Regions from separate parts of the Homo sapiens genome. Here regions 1 and 3 are each linked to region 2. The links come from fine-mapping of genetic effects on gene expression. A gene starts in region 2. Each other region holds a variant in brackets. All regions are shown on one strand. Distances are between the middles of the regions.

Evidence for each region. PIP is the estimated chance that this variant, and not a neighbour inherited with it, causes the effect.
Region 1: its variant is the best candidate, but not a certain one, in a credible set for the expression of RSAD1 in whole blood (INTERVAL, PIP 0.56).
Region 3: its variant is the best candidate, but not a certain one, in a credible set for the expression of RSAD1 in whole blood (TOPMed, PIP 0.58).

Annotation. Positions count from the first base shown.
Region 1 is chr17:50,507,207-50,513,615 of GRCh38, reverse strand. It overlaps MYCBPAP (MYCBP associated protein), which reads right to left and starts at 5,177. Exons shown (of 19, transcript NM_032133.6): 1 at 4,866-5,177. The coding sequence starts at 4,941. RefSeq lists silencers at 2,121-2,210, 5,182-5,471 and enhancers at 2,311-2,510, 4,952-5,081, 5,102-5,161. The variant C/TC (reference allele first, on the strand shown) is at 2,556.
Region 2 is chr17:50,476,298-50,482,685 of GRCh38, reverse strand. RSAD1 (radical S-adenosyl methionine domain containing 1) reads right to left here and starts at 3,826. Exons shown (of 9, transcript NM_018346.3): 1 at 3,667-3,826; 2 at 2,924-3,057; 3 at 2,602-2,806; 4 at 230-595; 5 at 1-43. The coding sequence starts at 3,801. RefSeq lists an enhancer at 1-178 and silencers at 2,613-2,999, 3,571-4,060.
Region 3 is chr17:50,498,835-50,503,834 of GRCh38, reverse strand. No RefSeq gene overlaps it. Among named protein-coding and RNA genes, the nearest start is that of MYCBPAP, 7.1 kb to the left of the region's middle. The variant G/A (reference allele first, on the strand shown) is at 2,470.

The DNA of each region.
Region 1 (6,409 bases), 31 kb before region 2:
TGCCGAAGATTTTTGGGGGCCAAAGCTCCCATCCCTTCAGTGATAGAGAAGCTAATCTTTCATGTTTGCTTTAGATTGAAATAGTAAAACTCTGGTCTAAGGTTATTCTGAGAAAGTTATCTTTAATGTAGTCCAATAAATGCTCTGTTACTGCATACAGTCAGGGAGTGGTATGTTCTAGTTATTAAAATATTCATTAAAATGATATATACATCTTTTTTTTTTTCTTGAGATGGAGTCTCACTCTGTCCCCCAGGCTGGAGTGCAGTGGTGTGATCTCAGCTCACTGCAACCTCCGCCTCCCGGGCTCAAGTGATTCTCCTGCCTCGGCCTCCCGAGTAGCTGGGAATACAGGCATGCGCCACCATGCCCAGCTTTTTTTTTTTTTTTTTTTTTTGAGATGGAGTTTCACTCTTGTTGCCCAGGCTAGAGTATAATGGCGTGATCTCGGCTCACTGCAATCTCTGCCTCCCAGGTTCAAGCGATTCTCCTGCCTCAGCCTCCCAAGTAGTTGGGATTACAGGCATGCACCAACATGCCTGGCTAACTTTTTGTATTTTTAGTAGAGGCTGGGTTTCACCATGTTGGCTAGGCTGGTCTTGAACTCCTGGCCTCATATGATCCACCTGCCTCAGCCTCCCAAAGTCCTGGGATTACAGGCATGAGCCACCGCACCCGGCCGCCCAACTATTTTTTGTATGTTTTGTAGAGACAGGGTTTCACCATGTTGGCCAGGCTGGTCTCAAACTCCTGACCTCAGGTGATCTGCCCACCTCGGCCTCCCAAAGTGCTGGGATTAGAGGCATGAGCCAGTGCGCCCAGGGATATATATGTATCTTAAAGTTAAATTGCTCCTCGAGAGTGCTTACCAAGCCCCTTCTATGTGCTATAAACTACAAAGATGGTATAAAAGGTTAAGATATGGCTCCTTCTCTTGAGGTACTGAAAAATGTGACAGGAACACACACCAATCATAGCTAGAGGAGTTCCTACATTTGCGGTACAGGCAATAGGTTTGGTTAGACATCAAAAAAGGAACAGATCCATGTGGATTACACAGTTCAGGGCTCTGAAGAAGTGTTCAGAGGAACAGCTGCAGAGGTGGCTCCACAGGCTGAGGCAGGCTGCAAAGGAGAGGCAAGCTTTGCACAGGTACAGCGGCAAACCAAGATGCTCCAGGTGAAGTCAAAGTCCAAGCAAAGCAAGGGGCAGGGCTGAGCATGGCACGTGAGTGGCACGATAACACAGAAAACTTGCTGGGGGGCCGGGCGCGGTGGCTCACGCCTGTAATCCCAGCACTTTGGGAGGCCGAGGCAGGTGGATCACGAAGTCAGGAGATCGAGACCATCCTGGCTAACACAGTGAAACCCCGTCTCTACTAAAAATACAAAAATATTAGCCAGGCGTGGTGGCGGGCACCTGTAGTCCCAGCTACTCGGGAGGCTGAGGCAGGAGAATGGCGTGAACACGGGAGGCAGAGCTTGCAGTGAGCCGAGTTTGCACCACTGCACTCCAGAGCCTGGGCGACAGAGCAAGACTCCGTCTCAAAAAAAAAAAAAAAAGAAAACTTGCTGGGGAGGTGGAGAGGTGGTGATGTTGGGGATGAGAGGGAAACCAGGGCATGACAGCTTTGTAAAGCATGGCTCAGGCATCTGATCTTTGGTTCAGGGGAGTGAGTTGATGACAGGTGCATTTCAGAATGATTCATCAGATGAAGAGAGCCAGATGGACCGGAGAGGCAGAGGCAAGCTGGGGAGACCAGGGAAGGAAGAGCCCCAGGGATCATTTTAGGACCTGCAGGAAGACTCCACAGGGCTGAGGTATGTCTGACTACTGAGCCTATACAGGCCCAGCTCTTTCTGGTTCTTTGGTCTGGAATCCCAAGCTGATAGGGCTCCTAGTGAGCCACCCAGCTGACATTTCTCCCTTGATGCTGACAGTGAGGGGTAAAAGAGACCACCCCGCTTGCACGGGGTAGTCAGTCTCTTGTCGGAGCTGGACCAGAGGGCTGGAAGCAAGGTGCTCAGGTGGGGGTAGGAAGCGAGATACGGAGCGGGGAAACTATGGAGGGAGAAGAAACCCGGACTCTATTTCTTCTGCTTCTTGTTTTATCTAAGTATTATTCGTTTTTAGTGTTGATTAAAGTCTTTGGGAAATTCTGACCTTAGGGTTGGGCTGGGGGAACCATGGAGGGGCTGTCCCTACTAGGGCAGAGCTTTAATTGGTTGGGGAGGGGAATCTAATATTGCTAGGAGGGTTCTTGGTTTCTTAGCAACAAGACAGCGGTGGGGAGGTGGTGCATAGCAGGAAGGGAGGGTACTAGGACTCAAAAGGGCTCTCAGGTCCCGAGAAACAGGTTTAAGTCACTATTTTTGCTTTCCTTTTTGCTTATGAGTCAGAGACTTTGGAGAAACATCGCACAAGGTTACAAAATGACACTGGGTCATTAGCTGCCTTGTATGGGGGCTGGGGGAGAGTACTGCTCTACAACATTAGAGGCTCCCCTGAGATATTTTTAAAAAGATATCTTGCATGCTAAACACTTCATTTTTTTT[C/TC]CCTCCTCACTCTGGTGCATGTTCTTAACTCAAGGGTTAATTAACAAACTAAATTTTCTGCTTATTAAAAATAAATATGCAGTGAAAAATCTTTCCTTGATTTGTTTACAGCAGTTCAAATCTGATACGATCTCCCAGAAACTATGTGAGCAGGAGGCAGTGGCTAGGAAAGCCCTTGACTGCCCTTGTGAAAGGAGACCAGATATTCCCTCTCTCTCAACTATTAAAAAGTATGTCACGGGCCAGGCACGGTGGCTCATGCCTGTAATCCCAGCACTTTGGGAGGCCAAGGTGGGAGGATCGCTTGAGCCCAGGAGTTTAAGACCAGCCTGGGCAACTTGTCTCTACAAAAAAAAAAAAAAAAAAAATTTGCCAGGCATGGTGGTGTGCACCTGTAATACTAGCAACTTGGGAGGCTGAGGCAGGAGGTTCACTTGAGCCCAGAAGTTCAAGACTATAGTGACCTATGACTGTACCACGGCACTCCATCCCGGGTGACAGAGCGAGGCCCTGTCTCAAAATACATATATATATATATATATATATATATATATATATATACACACACACACACACACACACACACATATATACACATATACATAATATATATAAAATACATACATATATATATATAGTATGTCATAAAACAGCATTGGACTTTTATTTTTTTAATAATGGGGGTCTCACTGTGTTGCCCAGTCTGGAATGCAGTGGCTATTCACAGGTGTGATCATAAACTCCTGGCCTGGAACAATCCTCCTGCCACAGCCTCCTGAGCAGCTGAGACTGCAGATGTGCACCACCATGCCCGGCTCAACGTTGGACTTTTATACGTGAAGAAACATAAAGCCATACTGAAAAGCGACTAAGCTCCTGTTAGTTTTCTGAGGGTCCCCTCTCCTCACAATGAGCTTTCACAACTCTGAGGCTGGGTCTCCCCAGGGCCTGCAAGAGCACATCCAGGCTTTCTGACCTAGTACATAAAGCCCTTTCATGGTCTGGCCCCTGACCTACCCACCTGTGCAGCCTCTTCTGGTTCCCACATTTACAGTTCCATAAACTCATGCTGCTTCCTAGACCTAGAGAAGCAAACCTCTCCTTTTTTTTCTTGTCTGCCATAGATGTCACCTTCTTCAGAAGACGTACCCCTACAACCATCCCTGGTCTGGCTCAGGTGCTCTGAGCCCCCTTAAGCCCGATGGGCACCTACATCACAGCATTTGTATTTCTACCTTTGTCAGGTTACTCCTCCAGGTGTTCATTAGACTGAGTTTCTTGAGGACCAGGGTCACACAGTTAATACCGATACCCTTCTGGTGAGCCACAGTACCACACAAAATCAGCTCTCAGTAAACAAAAATAGGCTGGGCGCAGTGGTCCATGCCTGGAATCCTAGCAGTCTGTGAGGCCGAGGCAGGAGGATCGCTTGAGGCCAAGAATTTGACACTAGCTGGGGCAACACAGCGAGAGCCCTGTTTACAAACACACACACACACACACACACACACACACACACACACAGAAAAAAAAAGCTAAAAATTAAATTTAAAAATAAATAAATGGAAACAGCCAAAAAAGATCAAAAGGGGGTGGGTTGCAAGTGAGAACATGTCCATGGAAGTCAGTCCGCTATCAGACGCCCTGTGGCTCTCCCAGGTGCAACCAGAAGAAAGCTGTAGAGGGTAGGAAGCAGTCATATCTAGCGATTCTTTCCAGGCTAAAGGAGCTGGATAAGTGTCATCCAGCTGGAAAGTGCACGTGGTAGGAAAAGGCAGTCAAAAAGAGAACTAGCCAAGCAAGGCCTTTCTTCTGGGTTTTTCCAGCAGGAATCCTAAGTGACGCCTGCCCCGCTCCCCGACCCTCCTCTACCAAATAATCCCATCAAGGTGGCTGGTTTCAACACTTCATTCTTTCCTCTTCCCAAGGACCCCAATTCCTGGCCCTTCTACCCTTAAACTCTTTCCTGGCTCTTCTGCACTTCATCCAGTCCGGGGATCCTGCCTCCTGCATGCCACCCTAAGATGTGGTTAGAGGTAGCGCAAGGCCATCTCCCCAGCCAGTGGTCCCTGAGGCCCCTCTGTCAGTCTCCCACTTCCTATGTCCCCATCCCCAAGGCCCAGTGCGCTGTAGGCTCTTCCTGCCTTGCCCCCCATCCCTAAGGGTCCTATGCCCAGTACCCCACTTCCCCGTGATCTTTCCTCCATCCCTGGTGCCATCCCCATCCTCCAGGCCCCGTGTCCTGAACTCTTTCCGGGGACCGCTTCCCCTCTCGGGTTCTCCCGAGCGCCCAAGGCAGCCAGCGCCAACCTTTGACATTCTCTGAGGCCTCTAATAATCTGGTCGGAGTTATTCTGAGGCGGGAATCCTTCTTTAGAGACTTCATGGTGCCGCCCGGCACCATGAAACGTTGCCCTGCACCGCCGGCCCAGAGACACCGAGGCTGCGCCGCACCCGCCAGCCAACGGCCGCCACTGCGTCCACAGCAACCGGTGCCCCGCGCGGGGGCGCGCATCCACCGATCAACTTGGGCGGAGACGGCTTGGAAACCTCCTTCTTCATCGGGCCGCGCACGCGCCCGCCGCCGGCGGCTTCAAGAGCGACGGACCCCTAGAAAGCCCTGCGGGCCCGGCCTGTGACGCCACAGGCGGCGCCGACGAGCGCCGTGACGTCACCAGCCGGGCGGGGCGGGGCGGGGGACCCGGGCGAGGACCCCCGCGAGTTGCGGGAGCCGAGGGCTGGGTGGGAGTGGCTGGCTGGTAGGGGTGCATGACCCGCCTCGCCCCGCCCTGCTGCTAGGCCACGGGGGGCGGGTGGGGCGTCGGGGGTGCCAGCCCCTGCTTCCCGCCTTCCTCGACTAAGGCCACATCCTGTCGAGGGACCTCCCTCTGCCCCCCTCACAGCGGTTCTGGGGGGGGATCGGGCCTTTCAGGACGTGCTGAAACCCCTTCGTGGCGTACCGTAGGTTTTAGGTGTCCCTGCCTGCCGTCCCCAACTCGCACCAACGCGCCTGGAGACCTCCCGGGTCCACGCTCGCTGCAGCCACTTTGGCCTTTCATCACTTCCCAAACCAGCCAAAACTTTTGCCCTGACTTGGGGCATTCTCACAGTCCTTGGAGATGCTGCCTCTGATTATTTTAAGTTTATAAACGCACCCGCTTTTTTCGCCTTCCCCTGGAGCCCTGAGGCATTCTGGGATTATTTCGGTTTTTTGTGTAGTTGCCTATTGTCAAACTGGCTCTCAGAATGTATGAGAGCAGGAGCTGCCTCAGGCCCTGCCCCCAACCCAAAGTTTAGCACTAGTAGTCAGGCAGTAAATTGTACCTCAAATAGTGAAGGGGTTCTAGAGCCAGACAATTGGGTTCTAATCCCAGCTATGTCGGCTTGTTAGCTGTGTGTTCTTGAGCCAATGCCTTGACCTAGAGAGCCGGTTTTCTCTGCTGGGCACAGTGGTTCAGGCCTACAATCCTAGTGCTTTAGAAGGCTGAGGCAGGAGGATTGGTTGAGGCCAGGAGTTCAAAATTGACCTGAGCAACGTAGGGAGACTCCATTCTAAAAAAAAAAAAAAATTTTTTTTTTTTTTTTTTTGAGACGGAGTCTTGCTCTGTGCCCAAGCTGGAGTGTAGTGGTGCCATCTCGGCTCACTGCAACCTCTGCCTCCCAGGTTCAAGCGATTCTCCTGCCTCAGCCTCCTGAGTAGCTGGGATTACAGACGAGTGCCACCATGCCTGGCTAAGTTTTGTATTTTTAGTAGAGATGGGGTTTCACCAGTTGGTCAGGCTGGTCTCGAACTCCTGACCTCGTGATCTGCCCGCCTCGGCCTCCCAAAGTGCTAGGATTACAGGCGTGAGCCA
Region 2 (6,388 bases):
GACCACACTGCCAGTAAGTCCAATTGTGGGTACTGAGCGCCCCCTGCGGGGAGGGAGGAAATAGTGCAGAGTGAAGAGGGCAGGCCTCATTTTTAGACTCAGGTAAGGGGCCCCAGGTTAGAATGTCCCACCATCTCGGCCAGGATCCTTCTCTTCAGAAGGTCACAACGCCCTGGTCACACTGCAGTCTGCCCATCCTCCACCTCCAGCCATCAGCCCCAGAACTTACATTCCGGGCAAAGTTGGAGACCTCATACTGGTGGAAGCCAGCCTCCCGAAGGACAGCCCGGCCCCTCTGGTACATCTCAGCTGCGAGCTCCGGGTCAGGGGCTGGAAGGGCACCCCGCTGCACCTGGGCGAAGAGTGCGGTGCCCCGCTCCAGGGACAGCTGGTAGAGGGAGAGGTGGTCATCACAGTGGTGCAGCAGTTCCTGCAGCTGCCCAAGCCACGGCCCCACCTGCTGTGCCGGCAGCCCCAGCATCAAGTCTACAGACACGCGCCCGGGAAAGAGGCGCCGGGCCTCTGCCAGCGTCCGCAGAGCATCGCAGGCCGAGTGCGTCCGTCCCAACAGCCGGAGCTCAGTGTCATCTAGGGACTGGGAAAAGAGGGTGGGTGTAAGCATACCAGCAGCTCAGAGAGAGACAAGAACCCTCCTCCCCATTGTAGACACAGATACAGGGAGAACGCAGCACGTGGCAGGCAGCTGGAAGGCAGGAGGGGGAAGGTCAAGCTGGCACCAAGAGCTGCCATTCACAGAAGGGTCGCTATGTGCCAAGCACCTTTATGTAGTGTCTAATTTAATCTTTGTAACCCTCCAATATTAGTTCTATTTTACAGATGAGAAAACTGAGGTTCAGAGGTGTTAAGTAACTTGTCCAGGCCATACAGTTGCAAAGTTCGACCTGGAATTTAGGACTGTCTGACTCCAAAATCAAGTCTTTATTTACTTTACTTTTCAATTTTAAATAATTCTAACCTATAGAAAAGTTGAAAGAAAATCACAAAAAAAACCTTCATCTTGATTCACCATTTGTCCATATTTGTTTCTCTTTAAACATACATACCTGTTATTATGCTGAATCATTTAACAGTAAATTATAAACCAGCACTGTCCAAAAGAACTTTCTACAATGGTGGAAATGTTCATATCTGTACTGTCCAATATGATAGGTAGTAGCCACATGTGGTTATTTAAATTTAAGTGAATTAAACTTAACTTACCACATTTCAAATGCTCACTAGTCTGTGGCTAGTGGCCACTATATTGAATAGCAGTTATAGATATTATACTCCCTAACCTCTAAATACTTAGGTGTGTATTTCCTAAAGAACAAGGACATTCTCTTACATAACTGCAATCCAATTACAGAGTTCAGGAAATGCAACACTGACACAACACCATTACATAATACATTGTCATATTCAAATTTGGCTAATGGTCCCAATAACATCTACTGTAGTAATTTCCTCCTTCCTCCCCAGTCAGGGGCCACACATTGTATTCAGCTGTCTCTTCTGTCTCCTTTAGATTCTCAGCCTTTCTTTGTCTCTCATGACACTGGCATTTTTGAAGAATACAGGCCAGTTGTTTAAAATGAATAATTTAATGAATTTAAATAAATTATTATTATTTACGAATTATAATTATTTAAATGAATTATTTAAAATGAATAATTTCTACAGATTGGCTGTATAACACTGTGCTTATAGTTAACAGTGCTGTATGTACATTTAAAAACTTGTTAAGACGGTAGATCTCATGCTGTCTGTTCTTACCACAATAATTTTGTAAAAATCTCTTAATTCAGGGTTTCCTGACAATTAGATTCAAGATATGCGCTTTGGGGTAAGAATATCTTAGAAGTGATGTGTTTCTGTCAGCATATTCCATCAGAACAAAGCCCACAACCCGGAAGTCCTACGGAAATATCGGAGGTCAACCTGAGACGACTAGGTTTCTCCCTACTTAAAAACCTTCAATGGCTCCCTATCATTACTAGGACAAAACCCACACTCCTTAGTAGGCACCAAAGGTTTTGGACTCTACCTTGCAACCTTGTTTCCAGCCTCTCCAATCACAAGGAATGACTCACAACTCCCCCAAAACATGCCAGGCTCTTCCATGGCCTGTGTCGTTTCCCCCACACCCCCTCACCTGGTGAACTCTTCCTCTTCATTCAAACATCTCCTCCAGAGAAGTTTCAGTGATTTCATCAGAGTGACCTCCCTTCAGGCTGTACTCTAGAAGCCTTTTATAGAGACCCCCTTTACAGGTGACATTTACCATGCTGCAATAATCTGGCTACATGTCTGCGTCTCCCGTGTCATGTAGCAAATCTTTTTTGACCACCTACTATGTGCCAGGCACTATGGTAAGTGTTTGAAATAGAAAAGCCACACCTGATCCCTTTCTCATAAAGTCTGTGGTCTATGACAGCAGCAGACAATTAAGGAGTTATAAAAGTGTCGCACTAGGCCCTACTGTGTCCCTGGCACCCAGAAGGTGCTCAATCAATGTTTGCCCAATGAATGAATGTGACCAAAGAGGAGATGGCACTGAAGGGCGGGGTGCACTGGGATGGGGTGAGTGCCATGGGTTACCTGGAGGCCTATAGACAACCTGTTAACCCCTGCTGCCCCGAACTCTGCCAGTCTGGAGCCCGGAGCTGAAGTAGGATTAGCCTCCAATGTGACTTCCAAGTCTGCAGGCAGGTGGGCTGCCTGTGCCACAGCCTCCAGGACAGCAGCCACCGTGTGGGGACTGGCTAGACTGGGGGTCCCCCCACCAAAGAACACAGACTCCACCCTGGGGAAAGAGAATGGAGAAATGAGACCTGGGGGAGCCCTCTGGGATGCCTGCACCTATCCCCCACCACTCCTCCAAATATTTCCCAAAACGCTGCCTACAGCCCCCACTACCCACCGTTGCACCCCGCTGAGCCGCAGCAGCGTCTGAGCTTCGGTCACCAGACACTTCTGCATGGCAGCCTCCTCCAGGCGGCGAGGGATGTACTTGTTGAAGTTGCAGTAACTGCAGCGCTTCTCGCAGTAAGGCCACTGGGGGCAGTGAGTGCACGTGCGCGGTGAGAGCTGCCCTGGCCACTTCCAGGGTTCAGTCGCACACACCCCCAACCCCACCCCCACCCCTATCCCGAGGTCTTTCCACAGTAGCTAGGACATCTAAGCCACACAACTCCCCAAGGCAGGTCGCACTGGGGTTATTACATCCACTTCAATGTGAGAAAACTGAGGCTCACTCCTTTGTTACGCTGCCTCTTCCAACCAGCAGACGTCAGGAAGGAATTCAACCCAAGCTCTTTCTGGGATCATATAATTTTCATACAATTTTCCTATGAGCCATTTTCCCAGCTACCGAGTCAGAACACTGCTCTTAAGAAAATTTTGTCTTGCTAAGAGGAAAATTGTTATGAAATTTGAACCATTTGGTCAGAGTCACCGAGCCGGTGAGTAGCAGAGACTTCAGGTTTCTGGACCAAGTCATTTCCCTGCCAAAGCACAGGGTCCCATCCCAGACCTCGTACGGGGGCACGGAAACACGGCAGGCGGGTTCATAGAGTGACAAACCGCCACCTGGGTTTTGGACGGCCACGGTCACGGCCAGGGCTGCGGCCACACACCGTGGGCTCCGCCCCCGCCCCTACTCACGTGTACGTAAAGCGCCGCGCGCCGGCCCGCAGGCTCAGGACTCGGGGACCCTCCTGCGTTCTCCACGCGGCGGCGCCTCTGGGCCGCTCTGGCTGCTGCCGCCCAGCCGCGAGCCCGGGCTCCGGGGAGCGCCATGGCGCCCAGCGCAGCGCGGCGCACTGACCCGAGCAGGAGACGCGCGCAGGGATCACTGTGAGTGCGCAGCCGGCGGAAGGAAGAGGGGCTGCGTGACCGCGCGACAAGAGGGCCCGGGCCCGGGGCTGCGGCGCCACCTGCCGGGCGCCCGGGCGCTCACTGCGGCCTCCTGTCGGTTCTTTCCCCAGGCCGCGAGGCGGGCTGCTTGCCTTTTGGCACCTTGTGCCCGGGCGAGTTCCCGGACCCATCCAGGAGCTCTTAGTTTGTTCAGTCAATTCCTTGACATTTGATGTGCCTGGCTCAGAACTGGGCGCTGGGGACATCTAGGTGCATAAAGCCAGGTTGCATTCTGGCAGGAGAGAGGCAAGCCAACCGGCCAGGACAGGCAAGGCGTATTAATTCCGTGCCTGCTGGACACCAGAGCCGTCCGCCTCAGTGCTGTGAGGTCATCTGTTTTAAGAGTGTGGGAGTCAGTAGGGCAGAAGAGACACTTGGGCTGGATCTTTCTTTTAATTTCATTTACAAATATTTGGGAGAGGGGAGGTCTTGAACTCCTCGGCCTCAAGCGATCCTCCTGCCTCAGCATCTAGAGTAACTAAGGATTAAGGGCATGAGCCACCACCAGGGCTATGCACGGGATCTTGGAGGAGCAGAAAATCCCAGGGGCAATTGGCTTGGCCGGGAGAGTAGACTGTTTTGGGTCAGGCCAACCCAAGCATCTGGAGGTGTACGTGCTGGAAGGACAGTCAGATGGTGTGTGTAGGAGAGAGGGGGAAGGCGCAGGGGAAGGCCTGGGGAAGCAGGCACCTGAACAACTGTCCCACAAAGCAGAAACATCATGGGCTTCAGAGGCAGGCGGTGCAGGACAGTTCTCCCAGTGGCCTTGAACTGACCTGGTTCTCCCCTCCTTTCTTGCTTGTAGTTCTCAAGAATAACTGTAGACGCCTGTAATCCCAGCACTTTGGGAGGCCGAGGCGGGCAGATCACTTGAGATCAGAAGTTCAAGACCAGCCTAGCCAACATGCTGAAACCCCGTCTTTACCAAAAATACAAAAATTATCCAAGCGTGGTGGTGGGCACCTGTAATCCCAGCTACACGGGAGGCTGAGCAGGGAGAATCCCTCGAACCTGGGAGGCGGAGGTTGCAGTGAGCTGAGACAGTGCCACTGCACTCCAGCCTGGGTGATGGAGCAAGACTGTCTCAATAAATAAATAAATAAAACTGTAGAGTGTGCAGAGAATGCAACATCCTGAGGGAAGGAAGGACTGGCCAGCACAGCCATGCTCTGTTCCAGTCCCCCTAGAAAAAGCATGTCCTTCAACACTTCAGCCCAACATGTCACATGGCCCCAGGGTATAAAGCCCAGGGCAGAAGCCGGGCGCGGTGGCTTACTCCTGTAATCCCAGCACTTTGGGAGGCCGATGCGGGCGGATCATAAGGTCAGGAGATTGAGACCATCCTGGCTAACACGGTGAAACCCCGTTTTTACTAAAAATACAAAAAACTAGCCAGGTGTGGTGGTGCGTGCCAGTAGTCCCAGCTACCCGGGAGGCTGAGGCAGGAGAATTGCTTGAACCTGGGAGGCGGAAGTTGCAGTGAGCCCAGATGGCGACACTGCACTCCAGCCTGGGAGACAGAGTGAGACTCTGTATCAAACAAACAAACAAACAAACGAAAAACAGGGCGGGCTGGTTTCTGGGGTCCCTCAGCTTCAGTACAAGTCTGGCTGGCTGGGCGTGGTGGCCCATGCCTGTTATCACAACACTTTGGGAGGCCGAGGCGGGTGGATCACCTGAGGTCAGAAGTTCAAGACCAGCCTGGCCAACATGGCGAAACTGTTTCTACTAAAAAAAAAAAAAATAGCTGGACGTGGTAGTGCACGCCTGTAATCCCAGCTACCAGGGAGGCTGAGGCAGGAAAATTGCTTGAATCCCAGGGTTCACACCACTGCACTCCAGCCCGGGTGAAAGAGCGAGACTCCATCTCACAACAAACCAACAACAAAAAAAAAAGTCAGGCATGCACAGACAACGGTCCATCCCCCAGCTGCCTCAGCAGCTTTCCTGAGCCGTAGGGGTCCAGCTCCAAATGAATCCCAGCCTTCTGTTGTCCCTTAGTGCCTACCTATAGGTAATAAACACGTTGCATGTCACTTGTGTTTGCCTCGCTGGACTCAGCGTTATGTAACTTGTGGGTGTTTGCCTCACTGGACTCTGACAAGTTGGTAACTAGTGTGCAGTGAACCTGCCTAACAGACAGCTGGGTTCTGATCCAGCTGTGTGACCTTGAGCAAGATACGGAACCTCCCTGAGTTTCTGTTGGGTCATTGGTGAAGTGGGACCAATGGCTACTTGAAAGGATTGTTGGGAAGATTTGGAGAGAAAATAATGTGAAAGTACCTAGCACAGAGCCTGGTACTGAAAATACCTTAAACCTATGTTCATTTCTTAAAAAGTCAAGAGGAGGCTGCTGCTGCCTTGGGCAGGCACGCTGGGAGGTAAGGGGGCAGGCACGCTGCGAGGTAAGGGGGCAGGCGCGCTGCGAGGTAAGGGGGCAGGCGCGCTGGGAGGTAAGGGGGCAGGCGCG
Region 3 (5,000 bases), 22 kb before region 2:
GCACCCCTTAAACAATGCATCACATCACTGCCCTCCTTACTACAACCTTGCTCAGCTCACACTCAGCAGGAATCTCACATTCTTCTTAGCCCCAAACACAGGACACAGCTGGACTCTGCTCCCAGAATGGACTGACTTCAGCTTCAGGGATGACACAGAGACTCTGGGACCTTCTTAGGAAGGACACAAGGAGGGATTTTCAGAGGCTTTGGAGTACAGTGTGTGTTTGCTTCTCAACTTTGCCCCCACTTGGGCTGTCTGCTTTAGAGTGGGGACAGTGAACTAGGCATGGTGGCTCACACATGCAATCCCAGCACTTTGGAAGGTCAAAGCAGAAGGATCACTTGAGCCCAGGAGCTTGACACCAGCCTGGGCCACATAGTAAGACCCCGTCTGTACTAAAAATAAACATTTTGAAAATTAGCCGGGTGTGGTGTTTGTGTGTGTCTGGAGTCCTAGTTACTCAGGAGGCTGAAGCAGGGGGCTTGCTTGGAGCCCAGGAGATCAAGGCTGCAGTAAGCTATGATTGCACCACTGCACTCCAGCCTGAGTGACAGAACGAGACCCTGCTTCAAAAAAACCCAAAGAAACAAAAATAGAGTGATAGACTGGGGACAGTGCCTGTCTCACAAGGTCACAGTCACCTTCTATTGCCTCATCCTTTTTGTCATCCTCAGAACTCCTACACATACACTTCTGTGGGATCTGTCTGCCCCGCTAAAGCACAAGTTCCAGAGGTGCAGGAGCCTATCTGTCGGCTTCATGGCTGTGTCCCCCATTCCTGGCTGGCACATGTGGGCCATCCTAATGGATGGGTGTAGGGAGCCTGCAGGAGCATCAGTGAGCCTATGGTCGCTGCCTTCCATGATCTGTGGGGCAGGGAGAGAGCTGGCTCCTCCCATGCAGCAGCACCCAGGGGCAGAATCACAAACCACAGCAACATACTCCTAAGAAGACTGCTATGAGAAGACAGTTCTAAGAATCAGGGCTCCCTCTGAGCATGCAGGAGTTCCTGCGCCGGTCCAGTCAGCCTGGGCTGCTGGGGAGGACACGCCCAAGATGGATGGACATTGAGTTCTGGGCTCTGTCCCGTGGACCTCCACCAAAAAAATGGTTCTCTGCCTGCACCCCTCCATCCTCGCTCTGGGCAGAAGGCCACCTTCTGAGGGCAGATTCAGGGCTGAGGGAGCTGGTTCACCTTGGGGACTTCTTCCTAAATTGTGGGGGTAGCTGAGGAATTGTCCTTCTCCATCGGTGAGAATAGTGTTCTAGTGATGCATGGCTGGGAACTGAGGGGGCAGATGCTGAATCAAAAGCCCTGGGCCTGAGTCTCTTTTTAGCTGTGTCACCCAGCACGAGGCCTCCGCTCTGAGTTTCATCTTCCTCCCTCACAGAATGGGCTCAGCACAGCCTTCATCTACTTTCCAGGATGGATGCAAGGTGGAAAAAAGAATGTGTGTGAAAGCTATACAGATGAAAGGGATTATAGTTAAGGCCTGGGACACTCAAGTCAACTAGATCATTTCTCTCTTAGTGTGATAGGCAGAATAACCTCTCCACCACAGATGTCCACCTCCTAATCGCCGGAAGCTGTAAATATGTTACCTTACAAGGCAAAAAGGATTTTGCAGATGTGATTAAGGATCTTGAGATTCAGAGATGATCCGGGATTATCCGGTGGGCCCCATGTAATCACAAGCGTCGTTACAAGAGGGCGGCAGAAGGGTCAGCGTCAGAGAGGGAAATGTGCTAATGGAAGCGGAGGTCAGAGTGTGTGGCTCCGATCCAAGACATGCCGCAAGCCTTAAGAAGCTGGAAAAGGCAAGAGGCAGATTCTCTCCTAGAGCCTCCACAAGGAACACAGCTCTGCAGACACCTGGACCATTTCAGACTTCTGACCTCCAGAGGCTGCAAGATAAATTTGTGTTAAGCCACTAAATATGTGGTCATTCGTTAAGGCAGAAACAGGAAACTAACACAGACAGGGTCATAGAAACACTTTGAAATCGAATTCTCTAACTCCTATTCAAAAGTCCGTCTCAGTCCATGAAAGCTTCTGTTCTTACCAAGTTAGCTCATGGCTCCCAGGCTATCATTAAGTAGGTCACTGCCAGGCCAGGTGCGGTGGCTCACGCCTGTAATCCCAGCACTTTGGGAGGCTGAGGCGGGTGGATCACGAGGTCAGGTGTTCAAGACCAGCCTGGCCAAATAGTGAAACCCCGTCTCTACTAAAACTACAAAAATTAGCCAGGCGCAGTGGCAGGCTCCTGTAATCCTAGCTACTCATGAGGCTGAGGCAGGAGAATCGCTTGAACCTGGGCGGCAGAAGTTGCAGTAAGCCGAGATCGTGCCACTGCCCTCACTCTAGCCTGGCCTCAGAGTGAGACTCTGTCTCAAAAAAAAAAAAAAAAAAAGTAGGTTGCTACATATCTGTCTTGAGTTCCAGTAGCAGAGCATGCTACAGTTGAC[G/A]CACCCAAGTTCAAATCCCAGCTCAATAATTTTCTAGCTCGATGACCTTGGGCTAAGTCACTTAACCTCTCCGAGTCAGTCTCTTTCATGACAAAAATGGGAAAGGGCAGCAGGGGGCGTTGTGAGAATTAAATATGATTCCCTTGAAAACTCTCACAGATAAATTAAATTTTAATTTCATATAAAATAATTTTTTAGTATAAGTATTTCCCATATAATATTTTGGATATGTTTACACAAAAAATATATTCATTGTTTATCTGGTCATTGTTTAATATCATTGTTCTTCATTAATATATCGTTAAACAATATATCATTAAACAAAATCATTAAACAATATACATTGTTTATCTGAAATTCAAATGTAACTGGGTGTCTGTATTTTTGTTTGCTAAAGCTGACAACCTTAGTCTTGTCCCAGGTCACATAGCTTGTAAGCAATGGAGCTAAGCCTCCGTCTCAGGCTTTCAGCCCAAAGTCAAAGAGCATCCTGCTGTTTCACAGGCCTGACCATAAGCGGATTCCCTGAGCTACATGGCAGTCCTAGACTCAATCCAGTTGAGACTTCAAAAACAAATGCGATTTAAGCCTTGGACACACCTCAAAAATATCAAAAGTGATAAAAGTGATCATGAAAATACAATTTAAAAACAATATGCAAATAAATGCTTATATATATTATATATGTATATATATAAAGCATGTCAAATCAAGATGGAGTATGAAATGAGAGAAGAAACTACATGCAAATAAATGCTTTAACATGTATTAAGTATGCAAATTCAATCTTTTTTTTTTTTTTTTTTTTGAGATGGAGTCTCGTTCTGTCACCCAGGCTGGAGTGCAATGGGGCGATCTCGGCTCACTGCAACCTCCGCTTCCTGGGTTCAAGCGATTCTCCTACCTCAGCCTCCCGAGTAGCTGGGACTACAGGCGCGTGCCACCATGCCCGGCTAATTTTTTGTATGTTTAGTAGAGACGGGGTTTTACTGTGTTAACCTGGATGGTCTCAATCTCTTGACCTCATGATCTGCCTGCCTCAGCTTCCCAAAGTGCTGGGACTACAGGCATGAGCCACCGCGCCAGGCCATGAATTCGATTTCTAAAGGTGATGTTCCTTTTATGTTTTCCTTCGGAAATCTGGACCAACCCATAAATTCAGTGGAGTTTATAAACTAAATGGCAACTAACTGAAGGCTTATCATGGCCTGCATAGCCTTCTAAGCATTTTATGTGTAATAATTCCTTTTTGAATAAAATTGAGATAATTTACATAAAAAATTTTATATAACATAAAATTCACCATTTTAAGGATAAAATTCAGTGTTTTTTCTTCTTAGTATATTCACAAGGTTGTACAACCATTACCACTGTTCAATTCCAGAACATTTCCATCATCCCAAAAGAAACCCTGTACCCATTAGTCACTCCCCATTCTTCCCTACCCGCTAATCCCTGGAAACCACTAATCTACTTTCCGTCTCTATGAATTTGCCTATTCTGGACATTTCATATACATTAAATCATACAGTATAGACCTACTTTGTGTCTTTTTTTTTCACTTAGCATAATGTTTTCATGTATTCATTTCACTGCTGAATAATATTTCATTGTATGAAGATGCCATATTTTATTTATCCATTCATCAATTGATGGGCATTGGGCTGTTTCCACTTTGTGGCTATTATGAATACTGCTGCTATGAACATTTGTGCATAAGTTTTTGTATGATTACATGTCTTTAATTCTCTTGGGCATATACCTAGGAGTGGAGTTGCTGGATCATATGGTGACACTAAGTTTAACTTTTTTAGGAACTGCAAGACTGTTTTCCACAGAAGCTGCACCATTTTGCATCCCCACCAGCAGTCTGATTTCTCCACATATTCACCAACACTTGTTATTATTATTATTTCTATTATAACCATCCTAGTGGGGGTTGGGGGGGTCATATCATAGTTTTGTTGTCCATTTTCTTAATGGCTAATGATGTTGAGCATCTTTTCATGTGCTTATTAGCCACTTGTGTATTTTATTTAGAGAAACATCTTTTCAAATCCTTTGCCTATTTTTATTTTATTTATTTTTTGAGAGAAAGTCTCACTCTGTTGCCCAGGCTGGAGTGCAGTGGTGTAATCTTGGCTCACTGCAACCTCCACCTCCCAGGTTCAAGCAATTCTTGTGCCTTAGCCTCTCGAGTAGCTGGGATTACAGGTGTGCACCACCACACCTGGCCCATTTTTGTCTTTGTAGTAGAGACAGGGTTTCACCATGTTGGCCAGGCTGGTCTCGAACTCCTGGCCTCAAGTGATCTGCCCACCTCGGCCTTCCAAAGTGTTAGGATTACAGGTGTGAGCCACTGCGTCTGATCTTTTGCCCATTTTTAAATTGGGTTGTCTTTTCATTGTTGAGCTGTAGGAGTTCTTTATAAATTGAGGATATTAAACTCTTATCAGATACATAATTTGTAAATATTTTCCCCCATTCTGTGGGTTTTCTTTTTACTTTCTTAATAGTGCCCTTTGATGTAC